Regions from separate parts of the Homo sapiens genome. Here all the other regions are reported to be linked to region 2. The links are microRNA targets in miRTarBase. Many come from high-throughput screens and were not tested one by one. Region 2 holds a microRNA gene; each other region holds the end of a gene's coding sequence.
What was found. The annotated mature microRNA hsa-miR-503-5p reads UAGCAGCGGGAACAGUUCUGCAG and lies in region 2 at 1,936-1,958, opposite strand. An mRNA with a match to its seed (bases 2 to 7 or 8) in the 3' UTR can be bound and repressed. Matches are read on the target gene's strand: a 7mer-m8 pairs with bases 2 to 8, a 7mer-A1 pairs with bases 2 to 7 and ends in A, and an 8mer does both.

Region 1: miRTarBase lists UBFD1 as a target of hsa-miR-503-5p. The part of its 3' UTR that is shown has no 7-base or 8-base seed match.
Region 3: the mRNA of NUP50 is a reported target of hsa-miR-503-5p. Seed matches in the 3' UTR shown: 7mer-A1 at 2,748-2,754.
Region 4: the mRNA of DECR1 is a reported target of hsa-miR-503-5p. Seed matches in the 3' UTR shown: 7mer-A1 at 2,429-2,435.
Region 5: the mRNA of ATP6V1B2 is a reported target of hsa-miR-503-5p. The part of its 3' UTR that is shown has no 7-base or 8-base seed match.
Region 6: the mRNA of SLC33A1 is a reported target of hsa-miR-503-5p. The part of its 3' UTR that is shown has no 7-base or 8-base seed match.
Region 7: miRTarBase lists HCFC2 as a target of hsa-miR-503-5p. The part of its 3' UTR that is shown has no 7-base or 8-base seed match.

What each region holds. Positions count from the first base shown.
Region 1 is chr16:23,570,192-23,574,272 of GRCh38, forward strand. UBFD1 (ubiquitin family domain containing 1) reads left to right here. Exons shown (of 7, transcript NM_019116.3): 7 at 289-4,081. The coding sequence ends at 399. Among named protein-coding and RNA genes, the nearest start is that of UBFD1, 15 kb to the left of the region's middle.
Region 2 is chrX:134,544,436-134,548,516 of GRCh38, forward strand. MIR503 (microRNA 503) reads right to left here and starts at 1,963; the gene lies at 1,893-1,963. MIR503HG (MIR503 host gene) reads right to left here and starts at 2,195. Exons shown (of 3, transcript NR_024607.1): 1 at 2,117-2,195; 2 at 279-362. It overlaps MIR424 (microRNA 424), which reads right to left and starts at 2,276; the gene lies at 2,179-2,276.
Region 3 is chr22:45,183,967-45,188,047 of GRCh38, forward strand. NUP50 (nucleoporin 50) reads left to right here. Exons shown (of 8, transcript NM_007172.4): 8 at 487-4,051. The coding sequence ends at 689. All of the region lies in intron 3 of LOC105373064 (a long non-coding RNA gene), which reads right to left. Among named protein-coding and RNA genes, the nearest start is that of MIR1249, 15 kb to the right of the region's middle.
Region 4 is chr8:90,051,561-90,055,641 of GRCh38, reverse strand. It overlaps DECR1 (2,4-dienoyl-CoA reductase 1), which reads right to left. Exons shown (of 10, transcript NM_001359.2): 9 at 3,903-3,965; 10 at 2,009-3,804. The coding sequence ends at 3,745. Among named protein-coding and RNA genes, the nearest start is that of CALB1, 29 kb to the left of the region's middle.
Region 5 is chr8:20,220,036-20,224,100 of GRCh38, forward strand. It overlaps ATP6V1B2 (ATPase H+ transporting V1 subunit B2), which reads left to right. Exons shown (of 14, transcript NM_001693.4): 14 at 228-1,661. The coding sequence ends at 367. Among named protein-coding and RNA genes, the nearest start is that of ATP6V1B2, 25 kb to the left of the region's middle.
Region 6 is chr3:155,824,855-155,828,935 of GRCh38, forward strand. SLC33A1 (solute carrier family 33 member 1) reads right to left here. Exons shown (of 6, transcript NM_004733.4): 6 at 1-3,523. The coding sequence ends at 3,356. Among named protein-coding and RNA genes, the nearest start is that of C3orf33, 21 kb to the left of the region's middle.
Region 7 is chr12:104,102,784-104,106,783 of GRCh38, reverse strand. HCFC2 (host cell factor C2) reads right to left here. Exons shown (of 15, transcript NM_013320.3): 15 at 260-3,825. The coding sequence ends at 3,511. Among named protein-coding and RNA genes, the nearest start is that of NFYB, 33 kb to the left of the region's middle.

The sequences.
Region 1 (4,081 bases), not on the chromosome of region 2:
TAGAAACTTCACAGGGTTGGAGCCTGCTGATCCATGTTCCAGCAAGCCCCCCGGATGGCTCTGATGACCACTCAGGTTTGAGAACTGCTGCTTTAGGGTTGGCTCAGCTTAACCCTCAGCCTGCCTGTTTTTGTTTTTGGTTGGGAGAATGCTCCCCACGTGCAAAGTTTTGTTTGGTTTTTCTTCCCTTTTTAATTAACTCACATCCCAACCCTCACCCATGTTTGTCCTGCCTGCTTGGTCTCCCGACCTCTGAAGTACCGCTTGGTTTTCCTTTTTCCCTTCCAGGCGTTTCAGTTGGGCCCCACGGAAGCCTCTTACTACTGGGTGTACTGGGTTCCAACTCAATATGTGGATGCAATCAAAGACACTGTGCTGGGGAAATGGCAGTATTTTTGAAAGCACTTTCACCTCTGGCCCAGGAGACTGACCCAAAGTGAAGGACATTGCCGGGAGAGGCCTGCAGCATCCCTGGATTTCAGAGTTCTGGAACTTTGTTCATAAAAAATCTATATTCAATCTGAGGTGATGTGGTGACTGAAGCCAGAGGTGATGTACTTTCACCATTAGCTTAATTTTAACTTAAAATTACCAGTTCCCTTTCTTGCAGTCAGCTTCATACCATTTTTAAAGTCAATACGATGGAAATCAATAAATCTGAATTCCGAACATGTTGTGTGGAATACTCTTAAGTGTGTTTGAGAGTAGATCTGCCAATTATGTTGACAAGGGAATGATCAAAAGCTTTGTTTTTTTTAAAAAAAAAAAAAGCAGTTTCAATTGAAATATTTTCATACATCTTTGGTTGCAAACATTTGGACTGCATTGCAATGAGTTGGGGTGTTTTTTTTTTCCTTTTTTGTATAAAATTGTATGCAAAATGGGGGTGGGTTAGTAAGCCACATATTTCTGTCCATTGATTCAGATTTAATTCTTTCCCTTTTTCATTCTCTCGCTTCCTCAATTTGAGTTTTTGTTTTAAGAACCCAAAGATGTCAGTTCTTCTTTTGGTACCTCATCAACGCTTCCTTTCCTGGGCTCCCTCCCGCCGTGCTGCTGCTGCCTGTGAACGCACGGTGGGAGAGGAAGAGCTGCTCAGTCTTGGGCAAGGAGCTCTCACACTTGCTGTGGTGTTCGTTGAGCAGCAGAGTATCTCCCAGTGACTCCTGTTTAAATGTCTTGCCCTTTGGGCCCCCATCTCCAAGGAGTTCCATTGCTGGTTGGATGATTGTCTGCACCCCTCACTGAGCTTGGCCTAGAGGCCCAGCCTGGCATGGTTGTGCCTGGGCTGTGCCGCTCAACAGCCCCAGCTCCCAAGCAGACAAAGACCTCTTCCAGGAGGAGCCAGGTAGAAGATAGTTATACAGCCATATAGCTGCAGATCCAGATAACCTTCTTTCTTTGGAAGTTTTCAAGAAATTCTTAAGCAGTCCAAGGATGATTTCAATTATGCTTCTCCATTGGGTCCTTCTGCTCATGCATTCAGTTCAAGTGTCCTTTATCCCAGGTTCAGAGATGCTGCCTTTCTGAAGAAGACATCTGACCCTAGCAGGTTGGCCAGTGTTATTGAACAACAAAAATGGGATAAATTGCTTTCATGATTAGCTCACCTTCTTCTGGTTTTAGCCCTTCTGTTCTCTGTACACGTGAACTTCTGTCATCTCCTTCTGGCTTGGTTGCCTCTGAAAGGAGGGAAAGTCTCTTGGTAAATTATCTCTTTTGTGCTGTTTGCTGTTTCTCTGCTGCCGTCTTTGCAGTTCTCCTCTCACTGGTTGCAGGCTTTCATAGTAAGGTTTGGCGAGAAATGTTCCAAACATCACATTTTGGATTCTAGGCTGTCACCCCTCATTCTGTGAAACGTATTAGCATGTGTTCGCCCAAGATGACTATTCCTTGTGAGCCAGTTAATGATGATATTCTACGCCCTTCCCTTCTAAGCTGTAGTTCAGGAATCCAGCCCACATAGACAGACTCTTGCTTTCCATGGTGTAGTCAATGCCAAGTGATGCATCTAGGCAGGAAAATCTACTCTTTGCTTTTTTGGGGGCAATTAGTACATTTGTGAAGTGCAGCATCCAAGAAACAGCCTGTTTTTTCATCCCTTGAGAAAGGAGCAGTCATTGCAGCTTTTCTGTCCTTGTCGGCCTGCAGTTCCTGGGGAAAAGAGTACATCTGAGCTACTTGTCCAAGCCTCTGTCTGCAGGTGACAGGTTTTGGGGGAAATGAGATGCATTAAGTAGAACATCATCTCGGGTCAGACATTGCCCCTTTTGTTTGCCAATGCCCCAGTCCTAGAGACTTGTCCTGACAGTGCCGCACACCTACTTTTGATCTCTCAGAGCAGGTGGCTCCATCCCCAGACTAGCCTGGCTGCTCTCCGAGGCCCCTCCACCTGCTCCCCTTATTGCCCCATTCTTGTGGCTTGCCGGGCCACTTGGCCTCCCTTCTTGCCGGTGACAGCGTTCCATCATCTCCCCGCTCCCCAAGGGCCAACTGCTTCTCACTCAGGCTGGTGTCATTTCAGGAGGACCAAAGCCTGCGTGAGCCTTTTTATTTTCAGTAAAATGGTGCTTTTTTCCTTACTTCGAGATACTATATATAAATAATAATGTAAATGACACCTTTTCGTACGGAGCTGTTTGAGTATTGCTTTACAGAGCTCACTAAATCAGCTTCAACAATCTTGAGCTCTGTGGCTCCTCACCCTGTCTGCATGGAAGACCTTGCTGGACGCTCTCGGGAGAGCAGACATAGCACCAGAAGCCACTGGGAGAAGTGTTTTCGATCCGTGTCTGGGCCACAGTAGTATTCACTGTTTAGTCTTTGAGTTCCGTAAGCAGTCTCTTCATACATTTCTTACAGTCTGGAGTGTACTGACTAAATCTGTGTAAGCAAATTGAAATACTCTTTCTTTTAGGTAGCGTCACAGTGGTTTTTTTTTTCCTCAGGATAATTTCTATACAATTTCCTTACTGTCAGAGGGACCAGATCTTTCCCTCACTGTGGCAGGGGCCGTGCAGGTGGATAAAGGAAGAGCTGGTTTCCGGAGAGTGACTGTAACAGCGTTGACTCGAAGCTAGAGATGGAGGGGGTGGCCGTCTCTTAGACATTGGACACCTCTCAGAGCCTCCTGAGGGCTTCTTTGTCTTCTAGAATCTCTACCGGTGGTCCTCCTGCAGGTTCTGGCTCACAGACATCATCATGCCTTTTTTTCCCTCCCTGAGGCGCCTTGGCAGAAGAGCGTGACCCTGTGAGCCAGGCCCCCCTTAGCTCTGCTTCAGATCACAGAACACAGACAGACTCGCGAGTTGCTGGACCTCTTTGGTATTAAGTGTTTGAATCCATGGTGGGCCTTTTGCAAGTAGCGTTAGCTCTTTTTAAATGTTGAACTGAGCTAAGGATGCACTTTCTTGTGGACATAGAAGGGGCCCACGTAAGGCCCTGAGTAGGCTCCTTAGTTGCTGCTTTACCTGATGAGGGCCAAAGAGATTAACTCTGCCTCGTTGCCATGTCTCAGAAAAGTTGCCATATTTCACCCAGAAGGGGCTTGTTTTCCTCTTACTCTTACTTTAACCATGTGCCTGGAGGAGCCATTCTGGGCTCTTGCACTTGCCCAGCCTTTCTTTGCCAGGGGCAGAGAAGGGAAAGGGGGTAGATTGAGTGTGCCAAGGGCCGTGCAAGGGCAGGCTTGCTTTCCACCCATCTGCTGAGGGAGCCCTCTCCTCTCGCTCCTTGCCTCTGTTCACACCTGTTGTCTTGGAAGAGGATGGTCCCTTTGTCTTAAGGCTTTGTGATAAAGTCATCTCCAGTTAGGATCTGCACCTGTTTCCTTCGTAATAGTGCCTGGCGGCCTTTCTGAAGTTACAGGTGGTTGGGAGCCCTCTCGCATGCAGAACATCTGGTAGATTGATCTGCCAGGCTGGGTGGTTCTACTGCTTTCTCAATTTCTAAGAACCTTTTTTTTTTCTTAAAGAGTTCTGCTGAATTATTTGACAATATTTGTAAGTACCATGTTTCCTTGTGGTGTATGCTCTGTTCTGGTTTCTGTTTTCAAATCAAATGCCTGTTTGGGAGGAGATGA
Region 2 (4,081 bases):
ATATTGCTTTATTCACATTTTTGTCCTTGGAGGAAAATCTAGGCACACTGCAACTTGGATCGTGTAAATAAAGGTACAAGGAATGTTTTAAGTCAGAAAAGGGCATCACGCAGTCAGGGGGCTGTGTGGACGAGCTCAATTTCGATGCATCTCGGGAGACCCGGGCAAAAGGCCGCTTGGATTCCGGGAGGCAACGCCCCCAAGTCAGGATCCCTTGCTCGCCGCCCCCAACCGGTCAGGATCCCTGGCTCGCGTCCCCAACCGGTTCCGTGTCTCACCTGGGTCCTGCAGGCGTCCACTGGAGGAAGCCGGATGGCGCGGGCTTGGTCTTTCAGGAAGGCTGGCTGGCACCGGGCTTCCTTCTGGCTCCAGGGGGAACCGTACAGGACGGGGAGAAAGGGGGAAGCTGGTGAGAGGCAGAAGGGGCGTCACAAGGTGGCTCTCCCACCCCCAAGTGCAAAGGCAGGCGGATGCGGGGACCTGTTCGCCGTTTGAGCCTGGAGATTGCGGGCCTGAGGGGCCCTGCGCTGGCCGGCCGGGGCGAGGCGGGAGCAGAATGGGGATTTCTAGGCCGCCGGGTCGGGCTGGTGGGCGGCGCCCCGGGAGCCTGAGGGTCCCCGCCGGCCCGGGAGGGACCCGAGCCGCCCCCGCGCACTGCCCCGGCGCAAGGGAGTCTGGGAGAGCCAGCGTCTCGGGCCGCTGAACCCGACTCCCAGCTCTAGACTTCGGAACCCCGGCCCCACCCCAAACTGGGAAACTTCTAGGGGCCCACTCCTGGCCCCGGGAAGCCCAGTTCCAGGCAGCCCATTCAGACCAGAGGAGTTTGGGTGTCTTTTTTTTTTCTTTAAGGTGACAAAAAGTGTGGGAAAGATTCCACACCTCCCTCCCCACGCCCGCCAATGGTCCTTTACCTGTCCATGTTTCAGATTAAATAATTAGCTCAAGAGATTTGCACAGAAAGCGAATTAGCCCTTTTCTAGTCAGACTGTTAAGCTCTCAGGCGGGCAACTCGGAACCCCGTTTCCTCACCGAAGGCTCAGGAGGCCAGCCCAGTGAGGGATGGAGGTGGCTTTAGAGGGCGACAGTTGTGCAGCACTCATGAGCAACAGTGCCCAGGACTTTTGAAGTCACGAAGGGCTCCTGAAATCGACAGCTCAGGTCCCGCCCCTGGGGCGACAAAGGAGTCTTGGGGGCGTGCCGCCGGGTTGGAATTGTGGTAGCAGATTTTTGGGGGAGGAGGGCGCAAAGCAGCTAGAAACGCACATCCTCATTCTGGAACTATCCCAAGGCCCCCATGCTTCTCAGCAGGCCTCGGGCTCAGATTGGGCGGGTTGGAGCCTTCCACCCCACCTTGGGTTCACCCGCCCGCAAGGCCTCGCGCCTCACCCGATCCTTCTAGAGTGCTGGAGCTCCACGGAGCCTCCCTAACCCCCCAGCAGCGGGGAAGGGAGGGCGAGGGAGTGGGGAAGAGGCCCGTTATTTTGATCTTTCCTGAATTCTTAAGTCCCTTCCATACCCAGGACATGAGCGCGTTTACCAGGAACCGCAGAGAGGTGTAAAGACTTCTTGCAGCTGCTCACCCTTCCTCTCCCCTTACTCCTTTTCCAGTCCTCCCCACCCCCCAGCATTTCGTGGGTGGGGACTGAAGATAGGTTTTCTTCGTTGTCCTGTGGGTGGTATTCTGATTGGGAAGGGATTTTTTTCAATTGTTTACATTCTACCTGAGCAGGGAAAGGGGGTGCCAAAATGAAGCATCATTCACGTCCAGTCACATATGCAGAGACGGGGCAAACGTTTGATGCAATCTTGGGTCTCGCTGCTCCCGGGGCCGACACCGCAGGCGATGGCCTAAGACTTACCTGCTGGGTAGGCCCGAACGGCAGTCCCAGACTTACCCTGGCAGCGGAAACAATACCCCAGAGCACCGATCGCTCACTGCAGAACTGTTCCCGCTGCTAGGGCACGGCTGAGCGCGGGCACCGCGTCTCTCCTCGACTCGCACCGCCTATGCGCCCCAGCCTAGCCAGGAATACTGCCCTCCCCGGACTACAGCCCTGCTGCGTGGACAAGGGCGAGGACCCGCCGGAAACAGAGACGCGAGCCCCCGCCCACCTACCTGCTCCTGAGCCGGCCTCGCGGGGAGCGGGCACCTGGTGGCAGGAACACGCGTCCGGCAGACCCCACCTTCTACCTTCCCCACGAGGGGGTATAGCAGCGCCTCACGTTTTGAACCATTTAGAACACTTCAAAACATGAATTGCTGCTGTATCCCCTCGGAGTCAATGAAGGGGGATCGATCTGGGGGTACCTGCGGGTGAATAAAGACTGGATGACTGAAGGAAGCCCCGCCCCACCCCCTGGCAAGGAATAGGGCAAAACTTATGACTAGGCCACTTCACTCCAAGTTAAGGTACTTCTTATAACTTCACCATTTGATTTCCAGGAGCTGCAGGTGGAGCCGAAAGTGTGGCTCTCAATTTTTTCCCCTGAGGATGAATCTTGGAACAACGTAGTGGGTGAAAAGCAGAGCGATGGGGGATACGAATTAGTGTGGAAGAGAATCTAATTACTTCTGAAGGTAGACGAATAAGGTTAAGTAGAGGCAATTGGACATCTGGATCATTCTTGCCAGTTTCAAAGTCTTGGTGAAACTTCTTCCTGCTGCATATTACAAGTCTCATTCATTGTCCCCATTAAAAAAAAACAAAAAACGAAACAAAAAAACAACCTTTATTGGAAATGGACTCAGATGACTGAAAGAAAATAACCAAAACCTCACCGGTAGCTTCAGCTGATTCTTACACTATCGTTGCGACATATACATCTATCTTTAAAAGCATTAGATGTCCTAACTCACTGCTAGTGTTTTTATTCTTAAACACCCCAGCTGAGTTATTTTAAAGAGCTCCAAACAATGACAGAGAACTTTCTGTAGATGAAATACCAGTTTACATATTAAACTGGTTACTCAAACTTATTTATAATTTATACCTATCAATGTCATCTATCAAAACATAAATCAAAAAGTTTAAATACTTGATGTCAAGTCGCTCCTTCCTGTTTCAAGCAGCTCCACAGAAACTTTCATGTCCTGAAATGGCCGGCACTGCGCATACTCCTTAATGATTAACTCATTAGATACCACTTTTTCCTTTTTAAAATGGACACATATTAGCAACAAGTCACATGCATGCCCTCTTTTTGTTTGAATACAATATTCAATTAAGCATTAAAAAAAAAACCCACTCTGAAATCCTCAATCACAAACCTAAAAGTTAAAACAACAAAATCAGCACTAACTGTAATGGTTTTGAAAGTTAAATACATTTCAGCACAAGTAATAGACATTTAAATTATCCAACTGTAAGTATCTTGTTACACTTACAAATTAAGTCGGTTTTTCAAAACCAGTACAATGAATGTTAAGTGTCCTATTTATTAGTTAATAAAATGTGCAGAGTATTTAATAAGATTAAGTATCGAATTTATAACATCCAGACTGAGATCCAGTGGTAACAAATACACTATGTCATGGTAAAAAAAAAAAGTCATTAGTAACAATAACCCCATTCCCTAAATTGCGACAATCAAGTATCTCTACATTCCATCTTGTTTTGGCAATGATATTTACAAACAACTTTTACACTGACTTTGGGATTAATGGAGAAAAATGTCGTTGACTGCCCTTAAAAAGAAAAAAAAAACATGTTTAGCAAATGTACAATTATCATGTAAAACTCCACAACTTTCTCCCAACATTTTGTTCCACACAAATATACGAGCCATCATGTCAGAAGTTAAAGTCATGCCTAATTTAACATTTCCTTAGTTGACTACTTAGAAAAACAAAAGTTCATTCGAAACAGCATCGGTGTCAAAGGCGAAGGTCCCTTCCAGATTGCTCTTGGAATCAAATTCATTTATACCTTTCACCCTAACCCCTTTCATCTCTCCCAGTGATAGTACAACGAGTTACACCCCTAAAAAGCCACCTCGATCCCCTAGTTTACATATTTCCCCTTAGACTGAAATTTACTTACGAAAAGAGATTACAAAGGGGCGTCTTGTCACTTCAGGAGAG
Region 3 (4,081 bases), not on the chromosome of region 2:
GGGGGCTGTGTTGCAGAAACTCCAGGGAGGCATTTTTCTTTCCCGTGGGCTTGACTAGGGAGTAATAACATGGTCGTGTCACTTTTGCCCAGGGAGCTGTGCCGGCCTGTGACAGAGGTGTCCTTTGTCCGTGTGGCGCAGTGAAGACACTGGGTTGTGCCACCGTGTTCTTCCTTCAGTGCAAAGACGGACAGTGTTGAGAGGGCTGACGGTTCTGAGCGAGGCTGCTGGCTCTGAGAGAAACGCTGTGTGGGTGCAGAGACCCGGGCTGGAGGGAGGACGGAAGGCCACTCCTCACAGTGAGGGCAAGTGCTCCCCGAGGCCTCCCAGTTCTCAGGGAACCAGTCCTGATTTTGTGCTGTCCTGTTGGCTCCCTGTCTTAGATGTATTAAGTTATTTCAGCATTTAATGTTTAGCATATTACAGACTCCTTTGGTGGAGCTATAGCTTCTATAATTTTGATGGGTTTTGTTTGTTTGAATGCAGGCAACATATTGCTGAACGTTCTGATTCCACCCAATATGCCATGTACGCGAACAGGGAAGAATAACGTTCTTATCGTCTGTGTTCCAAATCCACCAATTGACGAGAAGAATGCCACCATGCCAGTCACCATGTTGATTCGGGTAAAAACCAGCGAGGATGCAGACGAGTTGCACAAAATTTTACTGGAGAAAAAGGATGCCTGAACACGCAAAGTCGGCTGCAGAATTATTGCCAAGTTGCTGCTGCTTCCACCGCCCCTTAAAGTTAGTCAGTTTTTCTTCTCTTCTTTGACATTCTAAGAACTTATAGATAACTTAAAACTTTTGTGAGGAAGATTAATGTGGCCAATAAAACCTTTAAATGTTAAGTGTCAAGAAACTGCACTCTCCCTTCTTAAGAACTGCCTAAAGTGTAAAATACATTTGAATGCAATTTTTGGAAGATTTTTTAATGTTCGTTTATTAAACTAACCCTAAGTGATTTCTTCAAGGACTGCAATCAGGGTATCAATTTGCTTTCCCAAAGGCTCTTCCAACCCGTGGGTTTTGGGGTCCACCGCCACCACGAGAGAGGCTTTTGAACAGGTGCCTGGCTGTGTTCAGAAGGAAGCTGGCCTGTGTGCTTCTCTCCGGTGGGCTCAGCCGACGTGTGAGACTTGTTCTGTTACCAAATGAACCGGGCTGCCACGCTGTGACAGGCGTTTGTCCTCTGCTTTATTTTTACTTTGAAGCTCAAATGCGAGTACTAAGTGTTCACCTCAGCGTTCGAATCATTGGCCTGTAACCCTGTGGGCTGCTTCACGAGAATTCAGGACCTGCATTTTCATTCTAAAAAGAAATGAACAGCTTGTGAAGGAGTTTTTTGGCTTCATAGTTTCTATTCATGAGGTAGTGTTACTTCTTTATCCCCCTAAAGACAAAATGAAGATAAAGGGGGATTGCCAGGAATGGGTTTAAAAGCACAAATGTGGTAGCTTATCATCTACACCATGGAGAGTGAACCCTTACGAAATGAAAGTCAAATGAGACCATCCGAGAAAAAGATGCGCATAGGCATTTGTACCATGATCAACCCCACGCACATGAAAACTGTGACCAAGTGACGTGCCTGGGAGCTTTGACACACGAGCCGTGTGAATTCACTAGGAAACATGTAATAAAGTCATGGAAGAGAAAATCGTGTGTAAACTTTGCCTTTAACTTTAGACCGCAGTATATTATAATACATTTGATATCTGAAATATCTTTACTTTTTTAAGAGTAAGATTCCATATGTCTGTCTGGAAGGGAGCCATGGTTATTCACACGAATATCCCTGTCACTTCTCCAGAGGTGTCAGGTAACTAACACGAGCATTCTTTGAAGACTCTGGGCACATGAATGATACACAGAATTGAATGTTTAAATTTCCACTGAGTCCTCATGAATCATTTGAGACTAGTACCAGCTGATCTTGTGTACAGGCTCAGGGTCAGTGCCCAAGGGCTCCCGCGTGTGTGTTCTGATCTTCAGTGCGTAGCACATTCTCCATTTAGAAAAGAGTGGTCAGAATAATTGTGGACGGTACAGTGGCTTTTTAAAACTACAGTCTTTAGGTGTAAGGTTTGGCGCCGGGAGCAATTTTATGATCAAATATGATGAACTCCTAAGTCACTGAGGTGTGATTGGGCCAATGTTGGCATGAGGTTCTTGCTCTACTTCCAGTGTTTTGATTCCACTGGGAGAATTTGGCCTAGTGTGTGGCTTTGGATGAATCCGTGTAGAGAGAGGTGAGCTTGTCCTGTTACAGATGCTGTCAGACATAGCGATAGTAGGCACCTAGGGAGGAAGTGGCCGTTAGTTTTACACTGACTTTTTAAGAATGGAGAATGCACGTGGGTTTCTGTTGCGGATGATTCATAGTAAGCAAGCGGTTGATGCTGTTAATACCGGCCCCACCCGATTGACATTAAGTTTATTCAGCTTTTAAAAAGATGAAGAACTAAGGGGAACAAATTTAAGTTTGTTGCAACTTAGCCACACATGCTTCCCTGGTACCAGCTGGAATCAGCAGCTCACAGGCATCTTCAGGACACTTCAGTGTATATGACACAGTACTTTGTTAGCGTCTGCGTGTGTATGGAAAGTTGACAAAAAATGGCATGAAAAGATCATGATTGGATTTTCTTTTAAACCTGCCCTTCTGTAAAAAATAGTTTATATATTTTTAAATTAGTAGGTATGTGTGGCTTCCTTTTTTCCTAACATTCCCAGCAAATTTTTGCTGCTAAGACTATCACTGTTAAAGTGAAAATTACAGGGAAAAATGTGATGAATATACCGTAACTCAAAATGTGATATTTTCTTAAAATCACTCTTTTATGCTTTAGGAACTGGTTGGTCTCCACTTTGATTATTAGTGTAAAGAGCCTGAGTATACGTGGATTTCATTGTAAAATTTAACTCCTTGTCTTTTACTTGGGGCACGGGGCCCCTGGAGGGCTTCCCTACTTTCCCCACTATGTTAACAGGTAATTCTGATTTATGCGTTTAGTTTGACTTATTTTTAACAAAATATTAGAAGTTATGCTTTAAAATGTTTAATGTGGACTGAAATTTTCATCTTTTGTTTGAGAATCTATGAAGTGTATCATATACGTGGCCTAAAGCAAGGTGTGTATTTTGTTATTCTGAAATTGTTTTGCATCTGGACAAATACTAAATATCCCAGTGGCCTTTTTTTTTTTTTTTTTAAAACCTGTGTATCCATCTCATCCTTTTGCGCATTCCTAGTAAGCAAAAAAATTTGTTATGCCATCTTCATTATTCGAATTACAGACTGAAAAAATATGGCCAGTTTTTAAAGAAGTTTAGATTATGTTTTCCATGGAAGGACAAGTCTGACTGTTCATAGGCTGATTTTCTTTAAGAGGATTATTCTGTTTTACAATTTCAATTCTAGATCACATTTTATATATGCTGCATGCCAAAAAAAAAAAAAAGAGAAAACTGCCTTTTCTGGTGTGGAGGGGAAGAAAAACTAATATTCTACCTTACTAGTAGAGTTCAAAACAAGTTTTCACTGAGAGCCTTTTCAGTAAAAGTTAAACAAGTTTGTTTTTTGAGCATTTGTCAGTTATTCTATTTCAGAAGAGTCAAAATTCAAGCACGATACATTTTGAAGGCTTTGCAAACTCCTAAACCCCTGATGAGTCCTCTCATTCTGGAAGTGGGAATTTGAGTAGATACTGATTTGTCCCGTAGTATGGCAGATGACAGGGAGGTCTTTTCCAAGCAGGCACTCAGAACACAGGTCACCGTATGTTCTCAGCCAGTAACAATCATACTGAGGACGAAGGACTCTCCGTTTGATGCAGACACAATTGTAATGGAGATGTAAAACTTCTTAGCAATCAGATGGATAAATTGTTTGCTTTTTACTTTAAATAGGAAATTGTTTTCTAAAACTAAAATACTTGAATTGTCAGACAATATAATCTCAGCTTGTATTAGTTTTTGAATGCTCCCATCGAGGAAGTGTAACAATCCATGAAATGTGAATAAATGAAAAGTAAACAAAATCCCAATGTGTGAGTCTTATGTTCCTCTGTGATGCA
Region 4 (4,081 bases), not on the chromosome of region 2:
TTTCTAGCTCTAAAATTCTATTATTCAAAGTCATTAAATTCTTATTGTTTTAGTTTCCACAAGAACAATAAGGAAACAATGGCTGTCACTCTATACCTGAAACATTTCCTGGAGGTGGTTTCACATGTTAATGGTAAGATGAGTGATATTGTTACCAATAATCTTTAATTTACTGAGTATTAACTCTTCCACTAGTACAATAGAAGCAGGACTCTTACAGAAGGTATTGAGTGACAAAGTAATAATTCTTAAGGTGAACATTGATGTGGTTACAGCCCACATGTGGTCTGTCATAGAATACAGTGATTACCCATAAACAATGTTTGTTTCTCTTTCAGACTCAGGAAAAAATATCTGTTAGTCAATATCTCCATGATCTCTCTTCTCTGATCCTCTCTGCCATGCTGCAAGCTTTGCTTTCTCATCAACCATTTGTAATAACACATAATAATGATGTAATAGATGACTAAGAAACTATTAAAAGAACTATTTTTGTCTTTAACAGAGGAAAAAATTGCATACAAACTCATACAAACCAAAAATTTTACAATACCCCATTAAGATACCAACAGGTAAAAAAGACAAACAGGAAATTCAAAAGTGTAGAAAAGTATTCAATCTCACTAATAATAAAATAAGTTTTTAACGGTACTATCATTCGTTACGTGTAAAATTGGTGAATAGTTTTAATTGTTGGCAGCTATTTGTTGAAACGGGCAGTGTCACACATTACTCAGGGGGGTTTAAACTCACACAAATCTTTGGAATAACAATTGGATATGTATATCAAAAAAACTTTAAAAGCTTCATAACTTTGATTAATAATACCACTTCTAGAAATGAGGAAAAAATTCCAAATTCTAAAAATGTGTTATACATAAAAACGTTCATAGTTTTATTTATAATACTGAAAAATAAAAGTAACCTGTGATCTCACTTATGTATGGCATCAAATAAAGTTGAACTCATGGAAGTAGAAAGTAGAATGATGATTGGCCGGGCACGGTGGCTCACGCCTGTAATCCCAGCACTTTGGGAGGCCTAGGCAGGCGGATCACCTGAGGTCAGGAGTTCGAGACCAGCCTGGCTAACATGGTGAAACCTTGTTTCTACTAAAACTACGAAAAATTAGCCGGGCATGGTGACGTGCACCTATAATCCCAGCTACTCAGGAGGCTGAGGCAGGAGAATCGCTTGAACCCGGGAGGTGGAGGCTGCGGTGAGCCAAGATCATGCCACTGCACTCCAGTTTGGGCAACAAGAGTGAGACACCATATCAAAAAAAAAAAAAAAAGAAAAGAAAAGAAAGTAGACCGATGGTTTACTAGAGGTTGAGGGAGTGGGAAGAAGGGGGTTTCTGATCAAAGCATACAAAATTTCAGATAGAAAGAACAGGTTTTAAGATCTACTGCAGGGTGACTATAGTCAATAATAATGTACTGTATATTTAAAAATAACTAATAAAAGTAAATTTCAAATGTCTCTCCATAAAGGCCAATAGGTAAGAGAGGTGATAGATATGTTAATTAGCTTGATTTAATCATTCCACATTGTATACACATATCAAAACATCACACTGTACCCCTTAAATGTACAGGGCACCCCATAAATGAATTCAATTATGATTTGCCAATCAAAAGTAATATTAATAATAATTTTAAAATGCATTGGCAAGGGAGGCATTAGCATTCTTGAAAAACATTAAAAAACAAAAAATTTTCAACAGCCAGGCTCAGTGGCTCATGCCTGTAACCCCAGCACTTTGGGAGGCCAACGCAGGAGGATCACTTGAGATCTGAAGTTCAAGACCAGACTGATAAAGATAGCAAGACATTGTCTCTATAAAAATTTAAAAAGATAAAAACAATAAATATAAATAACCCTATTCCCAATAAATTAAATAATGATACATCAAAACAATAGAACACTAAAAATAATATTTATCTAAAAAAGGACCTGATTTATCATGTAATCTGAATTTTTTTTTTAAAAAAGGTTGAGACAACACTGGAAAAAAATAATATTTATTAAGTTATATAAATGTAAACATTTAGTATAAATTTAACCAGAAAGAGAAATATGGCTATACTGGTGGAATCAGTGGAGGGAAAGAGTGTGTCTTTGTGTGTTTGGTGAGAGGTGGGTGGGAAGGTGGGTTTGGAAATGGAGTGAGTGATAAACCATCATTATTGGTGTGTGAACACAATATCAACACAATAGTGTGATAGTGAATAAGTCTCACGAGATCTGATGGTTTTATAAATGGGAGTTCCCCTGCACAAGCTCTCTTGGGTGCCACCACGTAAGACATGACTTTGCTCCTCACTCACCTTCTGCCATGATTGTGAGGCCTCCCTAGCCATGCTGAACTATGAGTCAATGAAACCTCTTTCTTTTATAAATTACCCAGTTTGGGTTATGTCTTTATTAGCAGCATGAGAACAGACTAATACACAGGATTAGTACTAAAGGTAAAATGGAGACTAGGTACCTGTCTGCGTTTTATTTTGAGAGTATTGTATTGCAAGCATGTGGAGAAAAAGTGCAACAGCCTAAAAAAAAGCCCAGTGAAAGTCAGTATAATTGGAAATGTTGGGCCACTTATTCCAAACCTATAACATCCCCTATATATACACAATTAAATGTAATAAATGTAATTTATGTACACAATTAACTGTCAATGTTAATTGGGGTTTCCATGGGCTTGTGGCAGATTTATTCAGATGAGGTAAGATGGAAGCTGGTTTCCTCTTGTGTCAACTTGGGCAATGGGGATAGTCAGTCTAGTGAACATGTTGTAACTGACTCCTGGGAAAGCAAAATGGACATTTTAAAAATATAGGCTCAAAAGTATAGCTCTGTAGACTTGAGACTTTGGATTCATTATTATTTGATTTTCAGGATGACAAATTAGTCAAACCAAAGATGAAATTTAATCAAATGATATACAAAAATATTTTATAGGCTTTCTTTACCTCTTTTACCCAGAGAAATCTATTCTTCTTTTACAGCTGGGATGGCATGCTATCTCTTAGGCATCACATTCTCCAAACTCTGGAGACAGAATGAATTACTTCCTCCTCTACACTTAAATACTGCTGGAATAATACTTATCACAATGTATCATAAATAATTATTTATAAGTTTGACTATCTTGCTAGATAATGAATTTAAAAAGGGCAACGGCTATAGCTTATTCAGTACTAAATAAAATGCCTGGCTACAAATAGGTCCTAGTAAAAATTAAAGGTTTGAGTTAATACTGAGTTACCCAAAGAAGATAATTCACAAGTCCAGTGAAAAGAAAGTATACTGGAAAGGCAAAGTCTATTATATTTAGTGTGTATCCTCTAATTTCTTTCTTTTAGGCCCTATTAATATAGGTATAGTATATTATGTAACTCAAATGCTACCGCCACCATTGAGTTTCTCCTGATTTTCCAAGTCACAAAGATCTGTTCTCTCTGCACTTCTAAGTACTTTTTACCTCTATCAATAGGTAAAGAGGAGCCTTTACCTACTCTCCCCATGCCTCCTTTTTTTTTTTTTAATGTTTTGAAGGACTATATTTCATTTTATTTATCTTTGAATATACAATGGCTATCACTGGCCTGGCACATAATACATATTCAATGAATGTTTGTTAATTAAGAATTTATTAGACTTGAAATAGTCAAAAGATGAGAGATAATTTGTTTCATTTCTATTCCCTTTTCTGTAACCAAGATGAAGGCCAAAGTGGTCTTAGGAACCTTTTGTCTTCCTGATGAGTTCTTCTATGGTGTCCCACTGCTCCTTGGTGACCTAACACAAAAAAGATGTCAATTTAATGTCCTTTTTACATGTTTTTAAAGCTTAGTATCCTAGCTGCTGATATTACATTATACACACAAAAGCATTACCTTTCTCAGGTCGTTGAATTCCCCTGAAATAAGTACTTCCTCTCCACCGTCAAATTTAATGACCTGGAAAAAACAAATTTTTAAACTCTGAAACTAACTCCTTTTAAAAAGTTTCTGAACCACTAGCCATTTTCCCATACTAATTGGATGGAATATCTCTTTGGCACTTTAAATCAAGC
Region 5 (4,065 bases), not on the chromosome of region 2:
CTGCTCCCTGTCTCAGCCCAGCCGCCTCTTCCCTCTTCTCTGGTTCCTTATGATACTCACTGTCTGTGCCTTCTTTTCCTCAGTCCTTCTCATTTAGTCTTGGGAGTCCCAACTTTTTTTTTTCAATATCTATTTAATACACTGCTAGTCATATAACAATACATACTGGATAACACTGCTAAGTTGGAAGTCATTTGCATTTATTAATTCAATCTCAATTTTTTAAGGTCCTTACGAAAATCGCACTGTCTTTGAGACTTTGGACATTGGCTGGCAGCTACTCCGAATCTTCCCCAAAGAAATGCTGAAGAGAATCCCTCAGAGCACCCTCAGCGAATTTTACCCTCGAGACTCTGCAAAGCATTAGCTGCTGCTTCTGCATTGCTCCGCGCTCTTGTGAAATACTGGTTCTGTTTTCTTTATTCCTTTTGCACTCTCGGTTCCCACCTTTGTGTTGGAGTTTACCATGTTACCCTGTAATTAAAAACAAAGAATAGGTAACATATTGTGCCAGTGTTGCAACGTTTTAAACTGCTAACAGACCTTAAAATATCCCCCTACCTGGGTCCTCAGTGCTATGTTTAAAGTGCTGCAGGGATGGAGTGGCGTTTTCTTATTGCTGTATGTATTGTACATAGTGGAGTAGTTAGTTACCTGATAACAGTCTTGTTATTTGGGTCTCTTAGACCTTACCTCTCAACTCCCTCAAGAGTACCAGTCTCTGAAGTTATAATGCTTTGGTCTCTACATTAGGGGCAAGATCCAGTCTGAGAGAAGTCTCCTTTGAGAAGGGCCAAGAGGCTCTTTCCTGAGTGTTTGCTTTCGGTTTGTTGGTATGCCTGTATTGCTGGGCTGTGCTGCTGCTCGAAGCAGATGGTTTTGACTGTCTTTTTGCTCTTTCCTATATAATGAATAGATGAGTGAAAGGAGTTTTCTTTTTCTCTTTAGTACTTACGTATTGGGATTCCTGTGTCTTACAGCTCTCCCTCTCCAAATAATACACAGAATCCTGCAACTTTTTGCACAGCTGGTATCTGTCTGGTAGCAGTGAGACCCCTTGTCTTGGTGATCCTTACTGGGTTTCCAAGCAGAGGAGTCACATGATTACAATTGCCAGTAGAGTTGTTGTTTGGGGTACAAGATGAGAAGAAAGAAAAACCTACAGCCTTTCTACATTCTGACATGCTAACAGTGGTTTAAGTTTCTAAAGTGTTTACCAGATGCTGAAGGCAAGGGGAGGGAGCAGAAGCACTTATGTTTACGGATATTTTAAACTCTGTTAGAGAGCAGCCTTTGAAAATCCCCAATTTGGTTCTGCTTTTTGACCTCTCTCTACCTTTTCAGGGTAATCTTTGTGGCACAAACGATAGCATTTCCAAGCTTTAGAGTTTTCTGAATTCCTGCGCCTTCCTGACGTGAGCCCTGAGCGATCTTCTATGCAGTTCTGCCATGCGTCCTGTTGGTCTCTCTGTGTTCTTTGTTACTTGGGTGCAATAGCAACTTCCCTACCCCGTGCATTCCATCTTTCATGTTGTGTAAAGTTCTTCACTTTTTTCTCTGAGGGCTGGGGGTTGGGGGAGTCAGCATGATTATATTTTAATGTAGAAAATGTGACATCTGGATATAAAATGAAAATAAATGTTAAATTAAATGGACCTTAACTAAAGTGACTCTCTATCTTCTAACGAGGAAAGCAACAAGCAAATATGTAATCACACATCTCTTCAATTCACAGCTCTGAGCATCATAACCAGGATTGGGAACCAGCCCTTGTGTTGCAGGGACATGGCTTCCACACTGCCCTTGTCATTCTTTTTGGTACTGTCCCTTACAGCATGCTGTAGTTTGATCCAGGGCTGAGCATTCCTACAGGTGCTCCCCAGCGTTCCTCATTTCAGGCCTAGTCAGGACCTCTAGAGCCCATCTGCTGTGAGCAAAAGAGGGTGCTAAATAGTGAAATACAGCTTGAAGCAAGCCAAAACCTGTTTCACATAAAATCTCACATGGATGTCCTGTATATATAGAAACCTGGTGAAAGCACAGGGCATGCTGTCATGGAGCCTCCCATTTCTCCCCACTCCAGTTCAAGGCAGCTTTCAGGAGATGGAGAGGAAAAAGCTTAATCATAAGAAGAACTGGGTAGACCTGAGTTCTCTTTCGGATTCTACCAGTACTATATGGCCTTGCTTAATCATTCAACAAATTCGAGTCTGCTTGTCTGCTTGTATGCCTTTTAGGGTTGTTGTAAGGACTGGAGATTTTTGTGTGTAAAACACTAGGACAGTGCCTGGTCCATAGCAGGCCACTGTTACTAGTAAACCTTTTTTAAGATGAATTTGCCTTATTACTGTTACATAATACTTAGGAATTGTTGGTTATATAGCACTCTTGTTAGTTTGTAACTTATTTTTTAGTGAAAACATTTTCTGAAGGAGCCTTTTTATACCAGAATAAGACCTAATGAAAAGACCTGCTACGAAGCCAAGTGTCCTCAAAGGTCAGGCTAACTAAAATGACTCATTCGGCATTTATTCTTGCAGTTGACTGCCACTTCATTGTGTAAGATTTCATGTAAGTGAAAAAATGTTTTCAGACTAATGTCATAAATACCTCGCTAAGATGTTTTATTTTCAGCAAGTGTGAGGGTACAAATCGTCTGAGGTCAACAAAGCATCCTCTGCTCTTGAAATTTTTTGTTACTATCATAAGGGCAAGTTAGCTTAATTCAGTATTAGGAGCCAACGGAAAATAGTTCCCCAGACTACATTTAAAATAGCATTTAGAGACTACAACAAGAAATACTTGGCAAGGCAGTTCTTGAGGGAAAATTATCCTTTGTGGGAAAACTTAAGAAGGAAGTGGGTTTTTTTAAAATGAAACAGTCATGTTCCTTACTCAGCTACCAACTGTAGTTTTATTTCAAGCCATTTTTCCAGTTTGGGGTTGAACACCTGCCTCACACTCAGGCAAACCTTGTGGTGTCCCCAGCTGCCCCCTCCTCCATATGAAGCCCTGCAGTGGTAACAAGGAGCGGGTGACTGATATTTGGAAACAATGAGAAATCACTTCCAGTCACTAATGGGTCACAGAGCTTTGTATCCTGAGCTAGTGGCAAAACTCGTCCAGAAAACTTAGTAAGTGTTTTTCAGACACGTGTGAAGGCTAGGAATTGTGGGACCCTCCCTGAACAGTCTGCCACATTTCTACTTAAGGGAAAAGCAAAGCATCTGACCATGGCTATCCCTGAGGCTGAGGCACACATGAACAATGCCTAGGTCTCCTTTGTAGGAGCCTGAGGGTGCCTAACCTAGAATCAAGCCCGTGGCTGTTTGCTGTGGTTAGCAGCTACAAGTAGTGCACATGTGATATGCCACTGTTCTCCACAGAATTTCATCTCTAAACTCCTAGAGCATTTTCTAAATCCAATAAATTACAGCGTTCCAGGTACCAGTGGTCATGTAGCCCTTTATCCACAGATGCAACTGGAAAATGACTCGTCCAGGGTCACAAGGGAATGGCAGAACACGAGCTGGAACCTGGGTCTTTAAGCGTGGGCTAGTGCTCTTCCCACAGCACAATGTTAACATCCAAAGGCCACTCCACACATCAAAATGGTCTTCACAAATGTCAATCTCGCTAGAAACCAGGATTTTGTATTGTGGCTAAAGTTCCATATCCTGGTGGACAGAATGGTAGCGTGAATGTAAACCAAAGGCCCTGACTGTCTGGACCTAGGAACTTCAGGGCTCACACTAAAAAGTTAAGCTTAGGGCTCACACTAAAATGTTAAGCTTTTAGGGGAAGGTAAGATGGGAATGTGTGTACAGACAATAGCCTCCAAATGCATCTAATTTCTTTTCTAAGCAGTCGTATTCTTCATTTCCACAAGAGGGCAGCAGCCCCTGAATGGTGTGGCAGTGGCTAAACACTGAGTTCTAGAAACAGACACTTCCGGATCAGTGACTGGCAGTCAACAGTTCACTGAATCAAATAGTGCTTTTTTTGGGGCTGCATGTTAGCCTGGGGACTGTAAGGGAACATGCTCTGATAAAAATAAACTGAAAT
Region 6 (4,081 bases), not on the chromosome of region 2:
ATTTCAAAGGTTTAATATTTTTAAAAAATTGAGAAATCTATTTAAGGTGTTGAATAAACTTTTTATGACTTATCAGGCAAAATTAAAATATTTATCATGGGCAGGGCACGGTGGCTTACACCTGTAATCCCAGCATTTTGAGAGGTCAAGGCTGGACGACTGCTTGAAGCTATGAGATTGGGACTAGCCTGGAAAATATAGCGGACCCCACCTCTATAAAAAATTATTATTTTTTATTAGCTGGGCATAGTGCTGTGTGCCTGTAGTCCTAGCTACCAGAGAGGCTGAGGTGGAAAGATCCTTTTTTGTTGTTGAGACAGGGTCTCACTCTGTCACCCAGACAGGAATGTAGTACCACAATCACTGCTTACTGAAGCCTTGACCTCCTGGGTTCAAGTAACCCTCCCGCCTAAGCTTCCCAAGTAGCTGGGACTACTGGTGTGTACCACCATGCCTGGATAATTAAAAAAAAAAAAGAAGTCATAAAGACAGGTTCTTATTATATTGACCAGGTTGGTCTTGAACTCTTGACCTCAAGTGATCCTCCTGCCTTGGCCTCCTAAAGTGTTGTGATTACAGGTGTGAGCCACAGCATCCAGCCTAAGGAAGATCCCTTGAGCCTAGGAATTTGAGGCTGCAGTGAGCTATGATTGCATCACTGTACTCCAGCTTGGGCAAAAGTGAGACCATGTCTCTAAAAAATAATAATAAAATAAAATAAAGTATTTACAATGGAAGGAATCTGTGGTGTTACTTTTAGGTAATCTCAGAAGAACTTTTCAAACTCAGATGTATATATGCGGCAACCAATGTGCATATGGAGATACTGACATAGAGAGAAAAATGTTCAATCTAATATTAGCCAGTAAACATATGATGCATTAACTGGAGGAGTTAAAAGTCCATACTTGAAGGTACTGTTTAATTTATCAGGATCAATCAATCAAGAAAAACACCCACAACATAAAAACAGGGTGGTATATTTTAGTACTACTGATTTATAATAAACAGATCCTCAGATTTAGGCAGATCATTTTTAAATGCCATTAGTGATCAATGTATGCAACACAGTTGCACATAGCTATTAACAAGTTATTTTGACATGCATTACATACATGTATTCAAATTAACTATAATTTTTTGTGCTTATTTCTAGAGCAAATTAATTAAATGGCTTTCACCTTAAAGGCTTAAAATGTTTTAAAACTTCAAGTCATTAAAGATGTACTGACATTAAAACTATGTTTGAAGGCTGGGCGCAGTGGCTCATGCCTGTAATCCCAGCACTTTGGGAGGCCGAGGCGGGTGGATCACTTGAGGTCAGGAGTTCAAGACCAGCCTGGCCAACATGGTGAAACCCCATCTCTACTAAAAATACAAAAATTAGCCGGGTGTGGTGGTGTGCGCCTGTAGTCCCAGCTACTCAGAGGACTGGGGCAGGAGAATCACTTGAACCCAGGAGGCAGAGGTTGCAGTGAGCCGAGATTGCACCACTGTACTCCAGCCTGGGTGACAAAGTGAGACTCTGTCTCAATTAAAAAAAAAAAAAACTATGTTTGAAAGTATATATAATTTGTAATAATATACACGGGAAGAAATAAAAGGTTATTATGGCAATCTGAGTTTCTTAATCCAAAAATTAAAAATCAAAACACATTTCATATGTAAGAGTTAAGTGGTTTTTTTTCTTTATTCAAGTAATCATTTAGACTCTAATACATGATAATGGACAACCATGTGACAAAGTACTGTAGTGTATGGTTTGGTGTAGCCTCCTTGCCTCTAGGATGGGATTTTTTCCAGGTGATTCTTCAGGATCTGACATCGATGCCCAACACAGGCTTTCCAATGGCAATGCATGAGTTCTAGAGGTCACTGCCCCATCTTTCTTCAGGTGCTGTGTGCCATTTTCTCCCACCCATTTTATCCTCCATTACTTATAAAAACCCCACTCTAAAATTCAACCTATGTTATAAAATTAACAAAATCAGGAGTTAGTACACATTTTTCCACAATGATAAAATTAAGACTCATAATGTACTATCTTGTTTCGTCTAACTTTTGGAGGATTTATATAATCTCTAAAGAGTCAGAGTAATACATAACACAAAACATGCAAAGAACCTTATCACTGGGTGTATGTAATACGCTGGGAATTGCTAAAGTACTCAAAAGCTTAATTTTCTTGGAATAGCAACTGTCCACTGAAAACTATAGTATTCAAACAAAAGGTTATGTGTTAATACATGAAAATACAGTACCTGATTTGGCATAAATTGTGAGATCTTTTTCACTAGTAAAGTGCTTAATTAAGAAACATTTTTCCACTATTAGATTTAATTTGTCAAAGGCACAAAATATCTTTGTCTCTCTCTTTAAAGTATTAGTTTTTTAAATTATGGTACTGCCCATTTAAATTTTACTTAATCAGAAAGCTTTACTGTTTTTTTCTCTCAGCAATTAAAAAAAAACTACTTGAAGAAAAACATTTAATTTTTATTTTCAAAATGTTGCCATAAACATACATACAACACTGAATTTGATCCCCTCCATTGGCTGTCTGTGTGCCAGGAAGCACTTGTGACAGAAAACATATATAAGCTTAGGGTAAAAGTTTATAAGGAATCAAAATATCTTCCAAAAAGAGGGGGTAGGGGCAAGAGGAATCAATAAGTTTAAAAATCATAACTTTCATTTTATAAAAAATAGTTTGAATAATTTTCTTATAAATCTTTAATGCTTACAAAAGCAGGAAATACATTTAAAATAGTCTTTTTAACACAGATTCATTTGTACAATGTGGTCATAAGAAAAATAACTAAAATGACATTTCAGTAGTCTATATTCTTTTCTCAGCAAATTCCACATAAAATTTAACTAATTTACAATTCAAAATAAGATTTTAACTGCCAACAATGTCAGACTAGTTGTGGTTAGTACCTGAATATCAAGCTCTTCTCCATTTTATATATTGTACCAAAATTTTAAATACAGCTCAGCAGTGATAGGTACTAATAACAATACCTGACTACATGGTTACCACCCGTGACTACTGCATTGCAGCTTAAAACATGCTTTGGTCAGTAAATTTAAAAGATATACATCAAATAACAAGGCCAGAAAAGTTGTTTTAGAATTTCCTGACCTTAAGTAAACTTTAAATACATTGACAAGGCAAAAAAAAAATATGATCAAATATACAGAAAGGTTTCTATTTTTTCAACCATTTGGCATTTTATATTATTAATTTCGCTGTTTAAAATAATATTTTATACTCCTGTGCACTGATTATCATTGCTCTCCGAATTAAAACTAAACTACAATTACCTTGCTAGAATGTCCAGTAGCATATATATTAATTGTTCCTTTTGCATTTCCACGAAGATGATCCTTCATCCTGTAACTTTTTAAATTTTGGACCAAGAAAGAACCACCAACCAAATCCAATGAAAACACAAATAATGGACTCCACATAATAACCATCCAGGGCTGTAACACATGAGCCACCCAGTTTTTTGCAAAGCTGTAAAAATAAAACTATAATAAATACTCCACAATTTCAAAATGAAAGTATTTAGCAATTAACATGCTTCTACTTTATAAAGAATAAAAATATATTTTTCTTAAAACATTTCAGTATTTCACTGAATTCCAATGACAAAATATGTTAATGTATCTTAATCTCTCTAATGCTACTAACAGGATTAAAAACAATTTTCAGTTCTTGCTGTAAACAATACTCATTTTCTTTTTTGAGACACGGTCTCACTTGTGGCCCCGGCTGAAATGCAGTGGTGTGATAATGGCTCACTGCGGTCTCTGGCTCCTGGGCTCAAGCAATCCTCCCACCTCAGCCTTGTGAGTAGATAAGACCACAGGCGTGCACCACCATGCCCCATTAATTTCTACATTTTTTGTAGAGATGGTGCTTCACCATGTGGCCCAGGGTGGTCTTGAACTCCTGGGCTCAAGCAATCTGCCTGCTTCAGCCTCTCAAAATGCTGGAATTACGGGTGTGAGCCACCATACCCAGCCGAATATGTTTTTTTTTTTTTTTTTTTTTTAAGAGACGGAGTCTTGT
Region 7 (4,000 bases), not on the chromosome of region 2:
TAAAAACAAGTTTTTAAACACAATCCATTCTTAATTTAAAGGCTGCCTATATTATTTCAAACAATACAGGCAGCCTTTTAAATATATGTTTAACAATTATTAAACTTGTTAATTATTAAATATTAATTATTAAACATGTTAATATATGTTTAATATGTTTACATAATGTTATTTTAAATATAAAATCAACATTTCTACAGATTTACTCTGCCATCACTAACTTTTCTTTCATATCCTTCAAAATAAATAACACCTGTAATTGTTTATAGTAGAAAAGGTGCTTTATTTTACATATCATTGGTACACGATACATAAAACTGCCTAAAATCAGTCTTGAAAAACACAACAGTCAGTCAGTTACACCTTAAAGGGTCAAAGACCAAGTCTATTTTGCAAGCTACTTCATTTATGATCAAATGACTACAATAATTTTAAATACTAATAATGTCTTCATATCCAATGTTACAAATGATTTTTGTTACAAGGGCTGTAATTTTTTAAAATAAAAATATCTTTAGCTATAGACCTTATTTCTAATCAGAATGAATCTTTGCTAGTCTACAAGTCTTTGAAATAATAGATCAACAATTTCACCTTCCTATAGATAATTGTATTTATGTAATTGGGTAATGAGGCAGGAGTCCTTCATACATGCAATCAGATTATTTCAATTTTTTAAAAAATGCAGATAAAATTGAGTTTATATATACCCTATGTCTAATTAAGTTGCCAAAGAAGTTTATTAAACTAAAATGAAGCCAATATGATATTTTAGAAAACATAATTCTGAGAGCATGCAACATCAAAAATATTTTTACTACTTATGAGAGCCAGAGTTGCAGAACACAGAAGAGGACTGGCACAAAGTCTTGTTATATTTGAACTGCTTACCTGACTGGGAAGAGTAAAGAAAGTCATTTAACTCAGTGCAAATCCTATGAAAAATATCTGCATGATACAGCCTACTGCTACACAAAGGGATCTTCATTTAGAAAATGTGCAAATCATAAGAAGCTAAATGCACTTCTCTTGCTATTTGCTCCAATTCATTCTATTCATCAGCACACAGCTCTAAGATCTCTTATTAACTACTAATGTCAAAGCCACAGAGATTTCTTAATGGCATTTTTTAGTCAGCAATCCCTTATCACAGAGATAAATATGACTGGTGCTTAATGTACAAATGCCAAAAAAAAAAAAAAAATAGAATCTGGGCTAAGTCTCAGGGCAAAAACATTTATGATTTTAACAAATCCCTCAGTATAGAAAGACTTCTCTTCCCTCTAAACAGTTAAGTCATATGTTAGAACCACAGGTTCAGAATCACCTCCTGATCCAGAAGAGTGGAGGCTTAACTGAATCAAATACTAAACAGGTATAAATGTGCACACTCAAACAAATATTCTATCCTTTGCTTAAAATCAACTTATTCCTTGTTATCAGGAGAAGGGCTTCAAGATGCACGTTGTTAATTAATGCAGAGAAGAAAGGGTTAAAAGCCAAACTTTTTCTATTAAAGCAATAGATCTTTAAAATAACTGGGCTTGAAACATATACTTTTAGTATAACTTTCCATTCATATTCTTTTATAATTAAGTATACACATATACACAACAAACCCTAATATTTAATATGTGCAAAATTGCTTACCATGTATTTTAACTTTGGTTAAGTATTTGTTTAGCCTATATCAGATACATTACAGAAGCTAGACAAATGATTACAAACATAATAATGAGGTAAGTTAAAATTCTACTAGTGCAAAAAGCAAGCATATGCCAAAAGCAAAGCATATGAATTAAACAAATGCAGAATGAAGCTCTCACCAAGGGCATTGCTGGGATAACAAACCAGAGAAGCTCCTTGTAAACATTGTAAAGTACACATTTAAAGAGTAAAGATTCATACAGCCACAAAAAAGGTATTCTAACAACACCATAGTAGTGCATTTATTTTATCTTTAGAGTTTGGAAACCACTCATTATGTGTCTAACAATTTGCATATTTTCTTCAAGAGAAACTTAATTAGTGAGACACATTAATTACAAATACTGTAGTATAAAAATCCCAGTTCTTTACAAAAATTATATATTAAAATATTCTATACACTTTAAATTAGTAACTGGAACACACATATATATCAATTCTGCACAATTAAATCCATCTTTGCTGGGGGGTATCATACATGAAATTTGAGGACATAGCTACTCAGTCAACCTAAACTGGCATAAGGTTATGTGGTATAAAAAAAGATAGACCTGTGCCCCTGCAGTTATTGAAGCTCTTAGTTTGAAATATCTTTTCTGCAATTATTGCTCTGTATATTAATTCCAGATTTAAATAGGCAGTGGAACCATGAAATTCCTAAAAGGTTTAAAACAAGTTACCTGTAGCAGAGTGTTTATAATGCCTATCTGTATCTTTAAGGTTGTAATGGAACCTGAGTTAGCTGTCTAATGCTTATATTTTCATAGTAAAAAAGTTTATACAATTTCAAGGTAAAAACAATGCAAAAATAAAACATTTAGAGCATTTACAAAAATCTTACAAATGTTTAAAACACTATTTTAAAACTTGTGTCCTGTTAAGGTGCTTGTTTTTTTCTCCAATAGGAGGACATATACTTTAATTTTGAATTCAATTATGAAGATTTTAATTTTAGCAAAAGCAAAATTAGAGCCATTAAGACAGATGAAAATGTTCAGGGACATACTTCACTTCTACTAAAAACACAAAACCTTAGTGCTGAAAGGGACCTAAAAGATAAACTGCTTTAACTCCCTCATCTGTTATGAGGAAAATGAGGGCCAGATAAGTTAAGTGCTTTGGCCAAAAATATATTCAAATATATTGGCCTGGTAAGAATCAAGAAAACTCATTGTTCTTGTTGTATTTTACCATGATTCTTGGAAAATAATAAAAGTTCAAAAGCAGTTTCTAAACTTGCCTCTTTTTTAATTTCTTAAGCTCTGTGCTAACTGTAAACAAAGAAAGGAATCAAATAACTATTAGAATTATTATAGTATCACACATATTATCCAATAGAAGACAGTTGTTAGAGGAACACTGCTCATATAGAATAAAGATAGAAGGAGTACTCAAAGGTAGGACATTTACAATGTAGAGAACATTTACTATATAAGACAGCATAGTATACAACAGCCAGTTACCAGAATCATCTCAATAACTCTAGGATGACTGGGTTACACAGCCCTTATAAAAGATATTGGGGTAATAAAGCTTTCTAGCTTTTATCTTAATTTCACTGTTTTTCTTTATAAAAGAGCTATATCTGTAAGGAAGAACTCATATACTAATTTTCAGAGAGTCTTTGCTTCTTTTCTTTTATTTGGATCTATAATTCAGCAAATACATTTTAAGAACAATTTACAAACTCAAGTTCATAACTGCTGGAAATACAGCCAGAGAATACTCTTTTAAATGACAAATCTTCATAACCAGTTACTAATAAATAATCATCATCACAATAGCTTCAGTAAAAAAACCAATTCAATTTAAAGGTGCTTTCTTATTGTTACCTTGAAGCCACCGAACTTGTGTAGCTGGTCCATATCCCTTTTCATTCTTTGCTGATATCCTGAACACAATGGCAGGCCTGGATGTATAATCAATATGTGCATTTGCAAGTTGCCCAGCAGTTACTATACATGATGTCTTAAGACCACAATAAATCCTCATGAACACAAGTTGACTTGGATTATCTTGTATCTGTGCTGTGCGGATAGCCAAGTAGGCTGAATATTCCAAAATATTTCCAGAAGGTGAGGTTGGAGGTTCCCAGGAAAGGTGGATACCTTCAACATTCTTGAAGGGGGGGGGAAAAAACAGGTTAAAGGTTCTTAAGTTTCCTCTGTTATCACTTATTATGTTGAGTCTATCTTTAGAATACAAAATGTTCATTTTTACTAAAATAATTGCATTAGATGTTACATCTTTTATTGTTGATTTTTAAAACCTACCTCATTTGGATCTACAATGT